Linked DNA regions of Homo sapiens. The protein of the gene in region 2 interacts with the protein of the main gene of each other region in a pairwise test. Each region holds a gene or a part of one and is shown on either strand. Other genes may lie near its edges.

What was found.
Region 1: the proteins of FGF14 (region 2) and SYT16 interact in binary tests that used the Homo sapiens proteins (3 or more experiments, as listed by UniProt).

Annotation. Positions count from the first base shown.
Region 1 is NC_000014.9:62,074,680-62,081,706, reverse strand, and holds part of SYT16 (synaptotagmin-16), read right to left. Parts: coding exon of another isoform or gene 7,014-7,027; intron 6,573-7,013; coding exon 6,316-6,572; intron 874-6,315; coding exon 433-873; intron 1-432. UniProt on the Homo sapiens protein: May be involved in the trafficking and exocytosis of secretory vesicles in non-neuronal tissues. Is Ca(2+)-independent.
Region 2 is NC_000013.11:101,710,919-101,717,945, forward strand, and holds part of FGF14 (fibroblast growth factor 14), read right to left. Parts: 3' UTR 4,737-7,027; coding exon of another isoform or gene 4,645-4,736; 3' UTR 3,634-4,644; coding exon of another isoform or gene 3,520-3,633; 3' UTR 1-3,519. Other genes in the region: ITGBL1 (integrin beta-like protein 1 isoform 1 precursor), read left to right, coding at 3,520-3,633, 4,645-4,736. UniProt on the Homo sapiens protein: Probably involved in nervous system development and function.

The DNA of each region.
Region 1 (7,027 bases), on a different chromosome or scaffold from region 2:
GGTTTCAGAAGCAGCTGAAGTTCTGGGCTGCTCTCTCAGTCTGCCCCAGCATACCCGTTAAGAACCTTGCCCAGAAAGTCCCATCTCTGAGATTCATCATGATGCAGATTGGGGGCAGGAGGAGTAGGATCAGTTATCCACAATCCAGAGGGCCAAGCCACCTTCCCTGTTTTTCTCCATGCCCTCTACCACACTGCTGCTATTTTGTCCTAAAATGGACAGGGCATTTATCCATCAGGTTATCAGGAAGACAGGCATGAAAGACCCATTGTACCATGAAGTGCAAATCATGGCTTACAAGGGTGAGGAGAGCCAAATGGAAAATTAAATTAAAGTCTCTGAATTCACAGACTGAACGTACTAAATCAAGGGCTGACAATCCCAGGTCTTCGAACACACCACATCATTAGCAGCACCATTTAACATACTCACGCTTATATTACTTCTTGGCTCCAGAACCAGAGTCACTTTCATTTCCCCTTCTGGGTGCAGGTGGCTGAGATAGAATAGTTTCTCTCCCATCATTCTCTCTCGGGTCATCTTCCGGGCAGCGTACAGGCGGAAGCGGACAGCACAGGCAGCCACATCTCTGGGCTCCAGCTTGGCAAAGGTGACCTTCTCCCTGAAGACGGGGTTGGGCCCTCTCTGTATGTTCGTCCTGCCCCTGTGTTTCTTACCAGGCAGCAGCACTACATGAACTTGCCAGGAGTTGACACCACTTCGGTCCTTATCTGGGAGGCCCTGTGCCCTCACAATGGTCACTGTGAGCTTCTGGCTGGCGGCTCTATATTCAAAGATGACATCTAGGTCACCACACTTTGAGATGGGCTCTGAGACCCCGGATGGCACCTGCAAATTGGTCCTGTCCTGTTCCTGTTGCAGGCAGAGGAAACAATTAGAAATGGAAATGATGATACCCAATTACATTTTGGCCAGTTGGTGCCCCTTTGTGCTCCTTCAGAATCCCTGCTTTCTAACTGCCAGTGTATTCCCTCTATATCAGATAGGTCTGTTTACTGGTCTATCGCTGCATTAAACTGTGAATTCTTTGACGGCAAAGTGCCTAGCATATGGTGCGCCTTCGTGAATGTTTTTGGAATGGATAACTAAAGCTTTTATATTTTTGCAAAGTGTTTTCATATATACTGCCTCTCAAAAAGCACAATTGCCCAGGATCATTGAAACCAACTGAGATGCTAAATCTAAAATTAAGTCAACAGGCAATTGTCCATAGGCAACTTTTCCTTGTGTCCCTAAATACAGATGGTTGAGCCTGAGCCTGTTCTCCACAGGCAAGAGCTTTCTACAGACAAGAATTTTGATGGGAGTCCCAGGAAGGTGATGCTTCAGTATATTTTCAATCTAAGTGGGAGAAAAGGTTTAGGGCTGAGCTTCTCAAACTTTAATGTAGACCTAAATCATCTGAGGATTCTGATTCAGTAGGTCTGGAGTGGAGCTTGAGATCCTGCCATTTCTGGGACAGGCACAAGGGATGTTGACGCTGCTAGCCTCGGCTCACACTTTGAGCAGCAAGGATTTAGGAGGACACCTCCACAGCCCTTTAGTAAACAGCAACACTGAGCCTGGAGCCAGAACACCTAAATTGAAATCATAACTCTACCACTGACTAGCTTTTTTACCCTGGCCAAATAGACCAGCCTCTCGGTAGTCTAGCTTAAAAATGCACATTAATGTGCCTACTTGCTGGTGTGTTGTTGTGAGGTTTTCATTGATATGAAAATACCTGGCTTAGACCAGACTGCATAAATATCTATTCCCACCACTGGACTGGTGCTACCTATTCTCAAACACACATCCCTCTTTATGGAATGTCACCCTTGGGTAGCAATTTACATGCAGCCACTCAGATCTGATGACCTTACTGGGAAAACTGAGCTAGGCTGCATTTATTATAATGAACCACCCCACTAACAAATTATAAATAATGTCAATAATAATTCTATTTTCCTCTGAAGGCATGATCCTTACCTGTAACTAAACTTTGATCTGATTCTTATTGCAAACCAGTTCTTATTTATGCAATTGAACACCAGAACTTGCTAATTTAGAGATCTCGTTTCAAATTATAATACAATGCCTCAAAATGTGCATCCATCAATGAAACTTTCCCACATAGTCTGGGTGAAAGTTCATGGTTCTCTGGGTTCGTATTTCCTTAGGAAGCCCAGGCCTACCACTTACTAGCTCTATGACACTGGGCAAGTCATTTAATCCTTTCCATGTTCTATTTTCCTCAACTGTAAAATGGAGATGGTACCTTCTGTGTAGGGATGTTGTAAAAAGTAGAGGACTTGACAGACAGTAGACATCTAATAAATATCCTTTTCTTTTAAGATTCAAATTAGCCTGCAAGAAAATTTAGATTTCTTGTAAAATAAGTGAAGCTTCTTATATCCTTTCCTGTGAGCATGCAATCATGCGTGAGTGTTTCTATTCAGAGGTACTTAGTTTCAAGTGATAAAAGTGGTTGCTATAGAGACTTTTGAATACAACTGACTAGTGTATATATATTAGAAGCAAGTCTCCAAGGATTTAGGCCAACTCAAAAATCAAGTCAGAATCTTCTCTCAAACTCCCTTGTCTCTTCCTAAAACTCCCATCTATTTTAGCCTACTCTTGATCATCTCTGTATTGCATTTCTGACCATAAGTAATAATAGCTAACATCTACTAAACTATTTCTTATGCCAAATACCATATCAAATCCTTTACAGACTATAAAAATTGGCTCTTAAACACTTCAGATCTTCTTGGCCTTAACTCATGTTCCATCTTCCCCTAAGGCACAGCCTATATGGGCTCTAAGTAGTTTCAGCCTGGAACTACTCAATAAAGTCTTACCTTCTACCCACACAATATAATTCTCATTTCTTATCATTGGTCTCTCTGTCGACCGCCAAGGCTTAGACAGCTGCAGAACCCTGCTTGACACCAATATATGTGAAGTCTACTTTTTGCCCCGTAGTCAGTTGTCCTATCAGTTCATACAGCTTCTTGGAGTGTGATCACACAAGATCAGGCAATTAGCCATACTGAGTGGTGGCCAATTCAACTGTGTATTCTCACACTTGACCTCCCTTCTTCCCTGCCTTACTTCCCTTGTCTCGCACTTTTGTTCCCTGGGGTTGCACTCCCAAAGCAGGGAACAAAGCCTTTACGTAGGCTCTGCTTTTTTGAGGAACCCAACTAAGAAACATTATCTTTTTGAATATTTACATCAATGCAATGAGGTAGGTATTTTAATATCTTCATTTTATGGAGGACGAAACTCAAGCTTAGAAAGACTAAATAACTAACACGCTCTCTCCCCCCAAGCCCAGATCAAATTCCCAGACAAGATTATCCAGGACTCATGCCCTGGCAGTTTGAGTCCCAGGCCTGCCTTAACTCGTATCCAATACTCAAAATTTCAAACCTTATTTTGAAACATACAGTCTCCTTTCTTCTTCCCCAAACCTTTAGGCATAACTATTTCTACATATAGACATATGTGTGTGTGTGTGTGTGTGTGTGTTTATATATATATATATAGAGAGAGAGAGAGAGAGCGAGAGAGCACTAGAGAGAGAGAGAGAGAGAGCAAGCGCACAAGATGAAGGGGGAGAAGACGGAAGGTGGGGGTTGGAATCACACTCTCTGTGGTTTTCACATCCTTTGAGGCCCCTGCTCTTAATGTTAGTTAATAGCTCTTAGTTTTGTCAACTTCAATGCCAAGGTAAAAATATTTTAGTGAATGAGGAGCTCTCTCCACTTATGTATCAGGCTGTCTCTTCGGATAAATGCTCACTCCACCTGCAGGTTTCTAAGAGAGTCCTGGGTAGAGCTCCTGACTGTCCTAAGAACTCCTCTGAATAAACAGATCCTGCCAATGGCTGGGCTTTGGATAGGCCAATTCAAGCTGTGGCCCATGAAAACTGGGCTTTGTAGCCCCTCCCTGGGTTGATTTGAGAAAAAGATTTGTGAATGCTGGTATTTTCATAGCAATTAATTATTTCAACACACTTTACCTCTCACCAGGCAACTGAAGGAGCTCCTCACTTGGGTACTGTTAATACCACTAATCCATCTGACCTTCCTGCAAGGTAAAAATCTCTTCATTCTTATCCCCATTTGGCAGATTTTAATTAACTTCTCAAGGCCAACCAATTAATCAGTGGAAAGCAGAGATGAAAAGTGGGACACCTGTCTCCCTGTGTGCTCAAAATCACCAGCCACACTCCCATTGTCTTTCCTGCCAAGCCCTGGGTCTGCAGGAAAAAGCCAAAGGCCTTCGCCAGCAGAGAAGAGCAGAGCTCGAAAATCCATCAGCCTAACAGGTAGTCACACTGCACGACCAGTTTCCTGCTGAGACAAAATAAATGATTCCTTGAGCTCCAATATCCTGGGCTTTTCCTTAAGATGAGAATACTTGTGTCAAATTGTCAAAACCCAGGTAGGTTTAAAGATTTTCTGTCAAATTGAAAGCCTTTCTGTTTTAGTAAGATAGTGTTGATGTCATCTGTGTGGCCTAAAGTAAACAGGCCTACAATATGTTCCTGATGCCAGATACACAGGGGAAGACAGAGTTCTCAATACAGCTAAGAGGCAAATAAATCATTTCTTAAAAGGCAAGCTAAGCCTGCAAAGCAGGCAGTTACGGGAACTGCCTCCGAGTTGGATTTGAGGTTCTACTGTAGGAGCACCAAATTACAGTTTTTTCTCAAAATAGATAGGAGGTTGAATGGAGCACACAGAGATGTCTGGGTATTTTTGGAGTCTGAGAACATTTAGTACCCTCAATACCGAGTCTTCTATTAAAGCTCCAGCAGGCAGGTAAATGGGAGGTGACCTGGAGAAGTCACTTCCAAGCCTCATGGCACAATCACCAAGGAGACAGAGTATCAATAGGCAGGCAAATCATTTGGTCTGTTTTGTTTTTGGGAGAGAGATTCAAAATATTTTTTAAGAGTTAGTGTGTGGGATTTGATACGGCTTGGTAGTAAACTAACGGGTAAGCAGAGTTTTTTCTTTTTTTAAACAAAATGTATAAAGTTAATGGCTTTGGGTGCCTCCATATGAAGGGCTGCTTTTTAACAAGCCACAAACCACATATGTGAGCTACCATTTCTGGTCCTCAGCAGAGACATCTACACAGGGGCACAGATGTGTATGCATACCCCTCCTTAGATACTACCTACACACGCCAACATGTTAGCAGTTAAGGCTTGGAAACAGGGTTTTCTGTGATTCCTTTTTTTTTTTTTACCTTGAGCATTTAGCGTGTGTGACACTCCAAGTCCTAATAAGAGATGCATCCTGTTTATTTTCTCAAATGGATGCTAATAAAATCCATTCACCTCTCTCCTTCTTCCCCCATCCCTGCAAATTATATTAAAGGTTTATATATGTATATGACTTATTTCATCAAAATTAATTTCAAATTAGGTATTAAACACCATTCCTTAATGCCTTCCAATGTCACAGAATCATGATAGGAGGGATCTATCTAATGGAAAAATAACCGTAAGGGCCAGTAAAAGGAAACAATTTGGTAAAATCCTTATCACAGTGCCTGGCATATATTAACTGCTCAATAAATGGTAGCTACTACCATCATCACCTCCAGCCATATCTCTGGATTGATTGTTACATTTATTCTGGACTAAGCTTTACTTGAAAAAGAACTTTGGAAGAAGTATCTTTTATCAGAGATTTACTACAAAACCAATGTCAATGGCCAGAGGGGCATTACTGATTAATGCTGTCTCCTAGGCACAAAATATATTTTGTATATATTCACAGTGCAAGATCTGCATCATTACACCTTGTATAATTTCACTTGGAAGGCCATTTCATTTTAGTTCAATTTTCAAATAATTTTCATATCAAATAATCGTAACTTGAGATTTGGGCTAAATAAAAATAGACTCCACTTAATTGAAACCATGAAGTAAATAAACCAGTCCCTCTAAAGAACTGAAAATTCCATTATTTAAAATTAAGTCTATAAAAAGCCTTTATATAAAAGAAAAGCCTGGCTGTTCCTGGATCCATTCTGCCACCATTCTTATTTTTTTTTCTTTTTTTCTTTTTTTTTTTTTTTACCGTTCATCCTTTTTTTTCCATTTTGAGAGAAATTTATGACTCTTTTATTGACATGCATGGGATTTTGGTCATCTGGACAAAAATTTATTGCAGATAAAAGTAATGCTTCCTTTCTGGAATTTTTTTTTTTTTTTAGAGAGATGAGAAAGGAGAGTGGAAAGAGGGGAAGGGGAAAGGGAACCAATGAAAGAATGAAAAACAAATAACTTGCCTCTGGACTCCACATGGAGGAGCTGTCAGTGGCATAGGAATCTTCAAATCCCCGGCTATTAAAAGCTGTCTCCATCTCCAAGCTGCCCTCTGTGGATTGGCGCCTGAGGCTTTGGACCACACTGGACTCTTGGTGAGATGTGCCGTGGTGTTTGGCATCCCCTCTTTCACATGGGGACTGTGAGTGAGCAGGGATGTGGTCATCTTCACCGTAGGAGAGATTCTCAGAATAACGCCGTTGGCTGGCTCCATCCAAATCTAAATTTGCAATAAGAAAACCATTTCAAATGCATTATTTTTAACACCTTTTTACCTAGAGAAATTGAGTAATTGCAGTCACAACAATCAAGATTGCAGAAACAGAACCCATACCAATAATACCTGCAGAAACATAATTCTATCCATACAGTGAAGAAACTTGATCCATAAAATGAAAAAGAACATTATCTCATTATGTGGCGTATCAGAAGGCTTAATACTTTTTAAATATGAGTGTAGAGAATATATATTTATGTCAAAAGGATAAAATCGACACAGCATTTTGCTGGAGCTAATGACCACAAGACTTCTGCAATGGATCTAAAAGCAAAAAGAGTCATCTAATATGGAGATCGTATGGTCTCCCGACTCTACCATGCTTCCTTTCCTCTTCAGTGTTTACCACATTACCCTCTGCTCAAAAAGCTTTGGTGATCCTACCAAGTAAAAAGTTC
Region 2 (7,027 bases):
AGTTAGTACAATAGTGAAAACTGCCTGCTGGGATGTCAGGTTGCAGCATTTTGTCAGGCTTGAATGAAAAAGAAAGTCCAACATTAGTAATGGAATGGGCAACTGACAAAGGTGCCTTGCCCTTAGACTCAAATTGTTTTTGTGAATAACCAAGAGAGATGAGGTTAGTGCAGTGCCGGGTCTTCCCTAAGCTTAGCTACCTTTGCAAAGTACATGATATAATTCATTGTGGGTTGTTTTGTTCATTTGGGGATTTATTTGGCTTCAAGACTACACAATTATATCTTTGCCTTGACTACTTCAAGCTAGATCCAGATAATCACGTCCAATCTTCTTACAGATGCTGTTGTGTGACAATGGCTGTAAACACATGTCATTAACTGTCTCCTTAAACTCTCACAGTGATACTTCTTGGGTCCCACATCTTCCAAAGAAGTCCAGCATACACACACACTCACCCACCCACAACCTGTCCCACATCCCCAGAAAAGAGAAAGAGTGAAAGATGCTTCACAAAATCGGCCTCAGCCTGGTGTTCAAGTTGCCTCGCTCAATATGCCTGTGCAGTCAGACCTGCAGGAAGAAACAGCTCATTTTTAAACTACTGTATATGAAAGTTTTTGCCTGGAGATACATCACAGATAGGCAGATCACTAAAAAGAAGAGTGGATTGAATCAGAGTGAAGTCTTCAGTTAACTGTTTGTTTATTGCCTGTGAGGTCCAGGACAGTTTCCTTTATTCTCTCTTCCATTCTCATCTTTGAAGGTAAAATTTCATTTCTTTCCCCTTCCTATGTCCTAAGATGCCCTGAAGACACATGAGAAAATGTGGCTGATTCCCCAGGGATGGAAGCCAGCAAAAATGCACAGAAGGGAGATGGGAACATTCTCAAGGGTCCTTATATTGAGAAAGAAAATGAATGGATTAGTGGTGCTGTGGTGATGAACTATCTGCCCTAAAACTCCTGCCAAGATCAGCCAGCTGTTCTCTGGCTAGGCTGGGTCTCAGGGGTGTGAGTGGGTCTTGGCCAGCTGAGTTGAACCATTTCTCACCTCTTGATAGTCATGCAGCCTACATCTGTCTGATGGAACCCTCTCCCTGTGTGCTTCCCATTTAAGAGAGGCACAATTTGACCCATGTTATGGAAGAAAACAGCTAGAGCGTTCTACAGGAAAAGTGCTATAATAGGTCCTAATAACTATTCACACTGTGTTATTACTATGTGCTATCTAGTTCTAGTTTCACAAGCAGTAGAATAATTTCCTACCTCTAAGATGCACTGAGCATTGACAAACAGGAAAGAATAACACAGCTGGGAAAATGCTGACCTAGAAATGCTACTGTTTCATGACACATACAAAATCAATCCTCATTTTTTATTCTAAGTATTTCAGCGACTAGTAGACTTTCAGAACTGGAATTTACTCATCAAATGTTCTATCCATATATGCCATATTAGCTTTAGCTGAGCTTACCAGTTTTCTGAAAATGCTCTACTATGGCATGAAGCTAAGCATTCCAGAAGCAAGAGCAGTGATTAGAATAGTTCCAGGGCCAGAGGATAAGTTTGAAGATGAAATATAAGATATTTCATGAATTGTGACATATATAAAATGATATCCTGGGTGTATATATGAATATTATGGGCATATAAAATCAGCACTACTTTAGAAACAACTAAAGACAGCCAAATACTTCAAATAACTAATTTTCCTTCACTCATGGAAATAAAACACTAAGTATGGTGCCTTTCGAGGAAACTTCTCTGATAGTCAATGAAATACTCCATGTGGTCTTTGTTGGCAGATATATCACTATCCATTTGTTAAACAAGCAGTAGAGTGCTGTACATTTTTTTATGCCTAGAAATGTGAAAGAAAGTCTTCAAAATTAGGATAAAGAAATCTCTAAAATCAGGAAATTCCTCACCTTGATGAGACCACAAGGGAACCAGCATCCTTTGCAGACTGACCTGGGAGCAGCAGCTCACTGGGTCCTGAGAAACCACAGGGCTGTCAGTCAATTATTAAAACTGAGAAGACGTGTATATTTCCTCAAGAGCATGCAAATCAACCTGGACCCTCAGGAAAACAAGTCAAGACTAAATACAATTATGCCATAGCTACGCAAGAAGTTAAAAAACACAATTGTCACAATCTAAATAATTCTGACTGCACTCTTACTTTGAGAAGTGTGTCAAGAAATGGCAAACATTTAATTTGGACTTTGGGGATTTTTGCAGCTGAAATGCATATACCAGTTTCCCTGATATGAAATATCACATAGTTGAGACACATGAACCTGAATCCTTTCATGATATCTGTGATGACCACAACTCCTTTTTCCTGATCACTTTAATCACCCAGGCTGTTAACTCATTTTTAATCACTGTGTTTTAAAAGAAGCACTAATGATTGATTCTTGCCCCTTTTCAATATATTTTGAACTTACCAATTCTGCAGTTTTGTTAAATATGTCAAAATACTCTTTTCAACTGCACATTTTTTCAACGTGATTTTGACTCAAAAAGAATACAGCCATCTTTTAGTAAATGGAAGTCATGTTTGGAAAGAACAACCAACCCAAGGAAACAGAAGGAAAAGAAAGTCCTTTTTATTTGTTTCTTTTTCATTGTAAAGTCTTTCCTGCTGTCGTTGAGGCAGTTTTTCCATGTAAGGGTTTTTAGTCTGTCATGGAAAGCTGTTTAGACTGAGAGAACTTCTGTCTTGGATACCATTCATCATCTCATTTATTTTCTTTTATTTTAAATATATCATTAATAAAATTTTTACTCAGTAAGTAAAGATATTTTAAATAACCAAAGAGGAAGTTTTTTAGTTAGGTAGGAGAAATGGGTGAAGTGGAGGGAAAAAGAGTTGAATCCAGAGCCTCATAAAATATGAACTTTGGGAGTAATTTGAGCTATCCCAGTTTATGACAGAGGGTCCTGAGGATGAGTCTCACAAGGCAAATATACTGAGTGACTGTATGCATTTTTAGCACTTTAATTAGCCACCCAATATGCAGGTGTGCTCCTACTCCAAGAAAATCATGTAAACGAAAATCCAAAATTATAAGCACAATAATTTAGTAGTTGTTTTAATTAGAAATGCAACCTAATTTAATACAATTCCCTATTCATTTCCTTTAAAGAGCAGGCACTTTAAAAACATGATTCAATTTAGGAGGAAAAAATCTATTTTTGAATACTTTTTTGGAAGACCATCTATAAGAATCAACCCCATCCTGCTCTCATTGACATTTCAACCAGACTGGGCCATGGGACATTTGTTCAAGGCTAATTGCAACTGTCTAGATCCATAATGAAGGCTTTCCTGGGTGACCTTTATGAATTACAGTAAGTAAAGCTCCCCTCTGAGAAACCAGCCATTCAATACACTTTTACCTTTGGATGATGGGTTATTAGAAGCCTGTTGTCAGTGTGTCAACGATATTCTATTCGAGATGGAAACCTTTAGTTATAAGGTGATGGTGAGTAATAGCCTTTGTAATTTCAGGTTCTTGTCATTGTGGGAAGTGCATTTGTTCTGCTGAAGAGTGGTATATTTCTGGGGAGTTCTGTGACTGTGATGACAGAGACTGCGACAAACATGATGGTCTCATTTGTACAGGTGCAGTATTAACCTTTTCTAATTGCTCTATGCCACAGTTTGTTATAGAGCCAAGAGACACTCGTCATGCAATGCTTTAGGTGGCTGGACCAACAGGGCCAACCGTGAATATGAAATATCTACCAAAGGCGAAGTGGGCATTTGGGAAAAAGCCCTCACAAAAGCCTCACATTATTCCTAGGCATAGAAGAATACAAGAGAATGAAGCTAAATTTTGTGATTATTTGGGATCCTTCCACAAAGTAACCTCCCCACCCTCAAACTCACATGTATGCAGTTGTATATTGAACACAGAAAAGAATTTTGTTGGCAACCATTTTACTTTGAACATGGTATAGGGAATGAAATATTCTTTTAAACAGAATCTGGGTACCACTAGTTGATGTGTTGGTTGCTTTTAGGGAACTGGATGTGTGTATGGGGGAGAGGTATAAAGAGGGCTCAGCCGTGTCATAGCCACTGCTATCCTAATTTATTGAGTCCTCATAATTGGTTATAAATTCATTTGTTTAGCCAAGTTACGAGGAAACAGAGACATGTATACTTCTCCTCAGCTCTAGCTGAAGGTAAAAGATGACTCTTTGTGTGTCATTAAGTTAGACCTTTGCTTTCTGCCCATCCTTACTACGTAAGACTCTCTTCACGGATTACTTGGCCTGCCTCATGTTATGTCAAAGAGCCTTATGTTTTTCTGTATTTATTCATAAGTCAGATATAACTTGCTCTTTAAGGGAAAACAAAATTGTCACCTAAAAGCCTAGCTGGAGTGATACAGGATGGTGACTATCTGATCGGTAAAGGGTGGCACCAAATAAATGCCACTAATTGTTTGAAAGATTAGATGTCTCGCAGCTGCTTAATAAGATGTAATAATAACATCATTGCACAATAAGAAAATCTACCAAGGATGAATGAAATGATTTCATTGTGGACACTTGTGATTTATAATAGCATGTTTAAATTTGGCACATTTTGATCATAATCATGATACCTATATGTATTTTATTGCAGGGAATGGAATATGTAGCTGTGGAAACTGTGAATGCTGGGATGGATGGAATGGAAATGCATGTGAAATCTGGCTTGGCTCAGAATATCCTTAACAATTACATGAGAGAGGTCTGGATTCTTATTTTTTCTGGGCCATTAGAACAGATAAATGCGAAGGAAACCATGTATATTCACCACTAGGACAGGTTAAAAAGACCATTGTATGTTTTTCTATTTCTGAATTACGAATGAAATCCGAGTACCTATTAGAAATGAGTTATGCAAATTTAGATGCAAATAACATTAGAAAAAAAAGATTCTTCCATAATTAACATAAGTGGTTCCTAACGAGAGCAATTTTTCCACCCAAAAGTCATTTGGCAACATCTACAGACAATTTTGATTGTCACACTGGGTCGGGTAGGAAGGTATGCTGCAGACATTTGGTGGGTAGAGGCCAGGGATGCTGCTGAGCATCCCGCAGTGTACAGGACAGCCCCCAAACAAGGAATTATCCAGCCCCAAATGCCAATAGGGCTCAAACTGAGAAACATTGAGTTATATGGCTATTAGAAATCCACATTCTTACACAAGAAAGACCATATTAGAATCTAAGGAAAACATGCATATTCACATTAATTAATCGATCAGATTTTTCCAGAATTCCGTATCAGTCACCATTTTAATATGGGGACAATGAAGACAAGCACACAGGAGGTAGAATATCAGAGTGGGGCTGGATCAAGGGCAAAAACTGGTCATTAAGTCATCTGACATTAAATCATTTAGCCACTAAGTTATTTGTCTACTCTCACTTTAAACTCACCAAAGAAGATTCTCTTAAAGAAATTATGAAAAATGTACAATTTAACATTTTAAATAAATAGTGACAGAAGTTGTTTATACTCTGTGTCAGTATATATATCTACTGATAATTAAAAATGAATTGTTATTCAGGGATATCTATTTTAGGTTTCTAGAAATAAGGGATCACATTTTTAAAACTGGGCAGGGGTTATGCGTACAAGAAATCTGATTTTTTATTTTAATTTATTCCATGGTAGTGTGGCCTTTTAAAAAGACAATATTGAGTTACATATAAAATGGGCCTGAAGTATGCATCCATTTCCCTTAAAATACTTTTTTTTCTAAGGATACCTTACTTACTGGAAACCTGGGGTCATGCAAAGAAGTCAAGACGAGAAATACTGTGATAAAATGGCACCAATCTCAGAAGCTCACAAAAGACCAAAAAAAAAAAAAAATCTAGAAATGGCTTAAATAGAAATTACAAATATTCACTCAGTGATAGGAACAAAATGTTTATTTTCTTAATGGTGAAACTTTGCTTTGTATGAAATTCACATTGAATTATGAAAGTGTACAATAATTGGGACTTCCCTTACATATTTACAGGTAAATCTACTTATACACATTAGTTTAGGCAACCTTTAATTATTTAGAGCTAAAAAAAAAACCACTTTTTTTCTAAAGGTGAATTACTTTGTAAAATCCTAGAATAATGTAGCAAAATCATTTCCGTATTACTTTAAGATGAAAATTTTTACTTGGAAATTTTATTTTAATGATGTAAATATTCTAGTCATGGCTTAAACTTTATAAGTCAAATTTCCAAAAATAAGGAAAATATGCATCCACTGAGTTACTTAAAAATTTAATATTGAAAATTATTTTAAGAGAACATTTAACTGATCCTGATTTTTATAGTACTAACAATGTTCTCATAATGTAATAGATTTATAAAAATTGTTATCTCTATCCTGAGATTAAGGAGTGCAACCATGTTGTAGTTCTATTATTGAGTACGTAAATTGATAGATCTCTTCCGTAAAATGAGGGAAATATAAGTAGTCAATAAATAATGTAGGTTATATTCTTTCCTCTTCACTACCTAAACATTTTAAGCTGTGAACAACCTATTATTATTGTTTTGTAGCAATTTTGATGACGTATTCGCTGATGCACAGACATTGGAATTCATTACATTATCTAGCCATCGTAATACAAATGACCTTTGGATTTCTCTATCACGGCGCTTATCCTCCTATTAAGGATCAGAAAGTTAAACTTTACGGACCACGTACGTCCCTGTCTCATATTCTTCTTTGTTGGTTTCTGTTTAATACTTTAAAGCTGTAAAAAAAATTTAAAAAATTCCTTCTGAGCTCCCAGGCCATACAAAAGCAACTTAAGGGTGGATTTGGCTGGCAGCTGGGCAGTACTTTGTCAGCCTCAGCTCCACTGGAACTGCCCTTGATTCTCTATAGCTCATCACAAAACCTCAGGTATGTCTTATTTTTCTTATAATCCTCTGTATGTTATTATCCTTTTTATTAACAACAACAACTACAACAAAAGTGCTGCTCTTTTTCATAGTCTCATG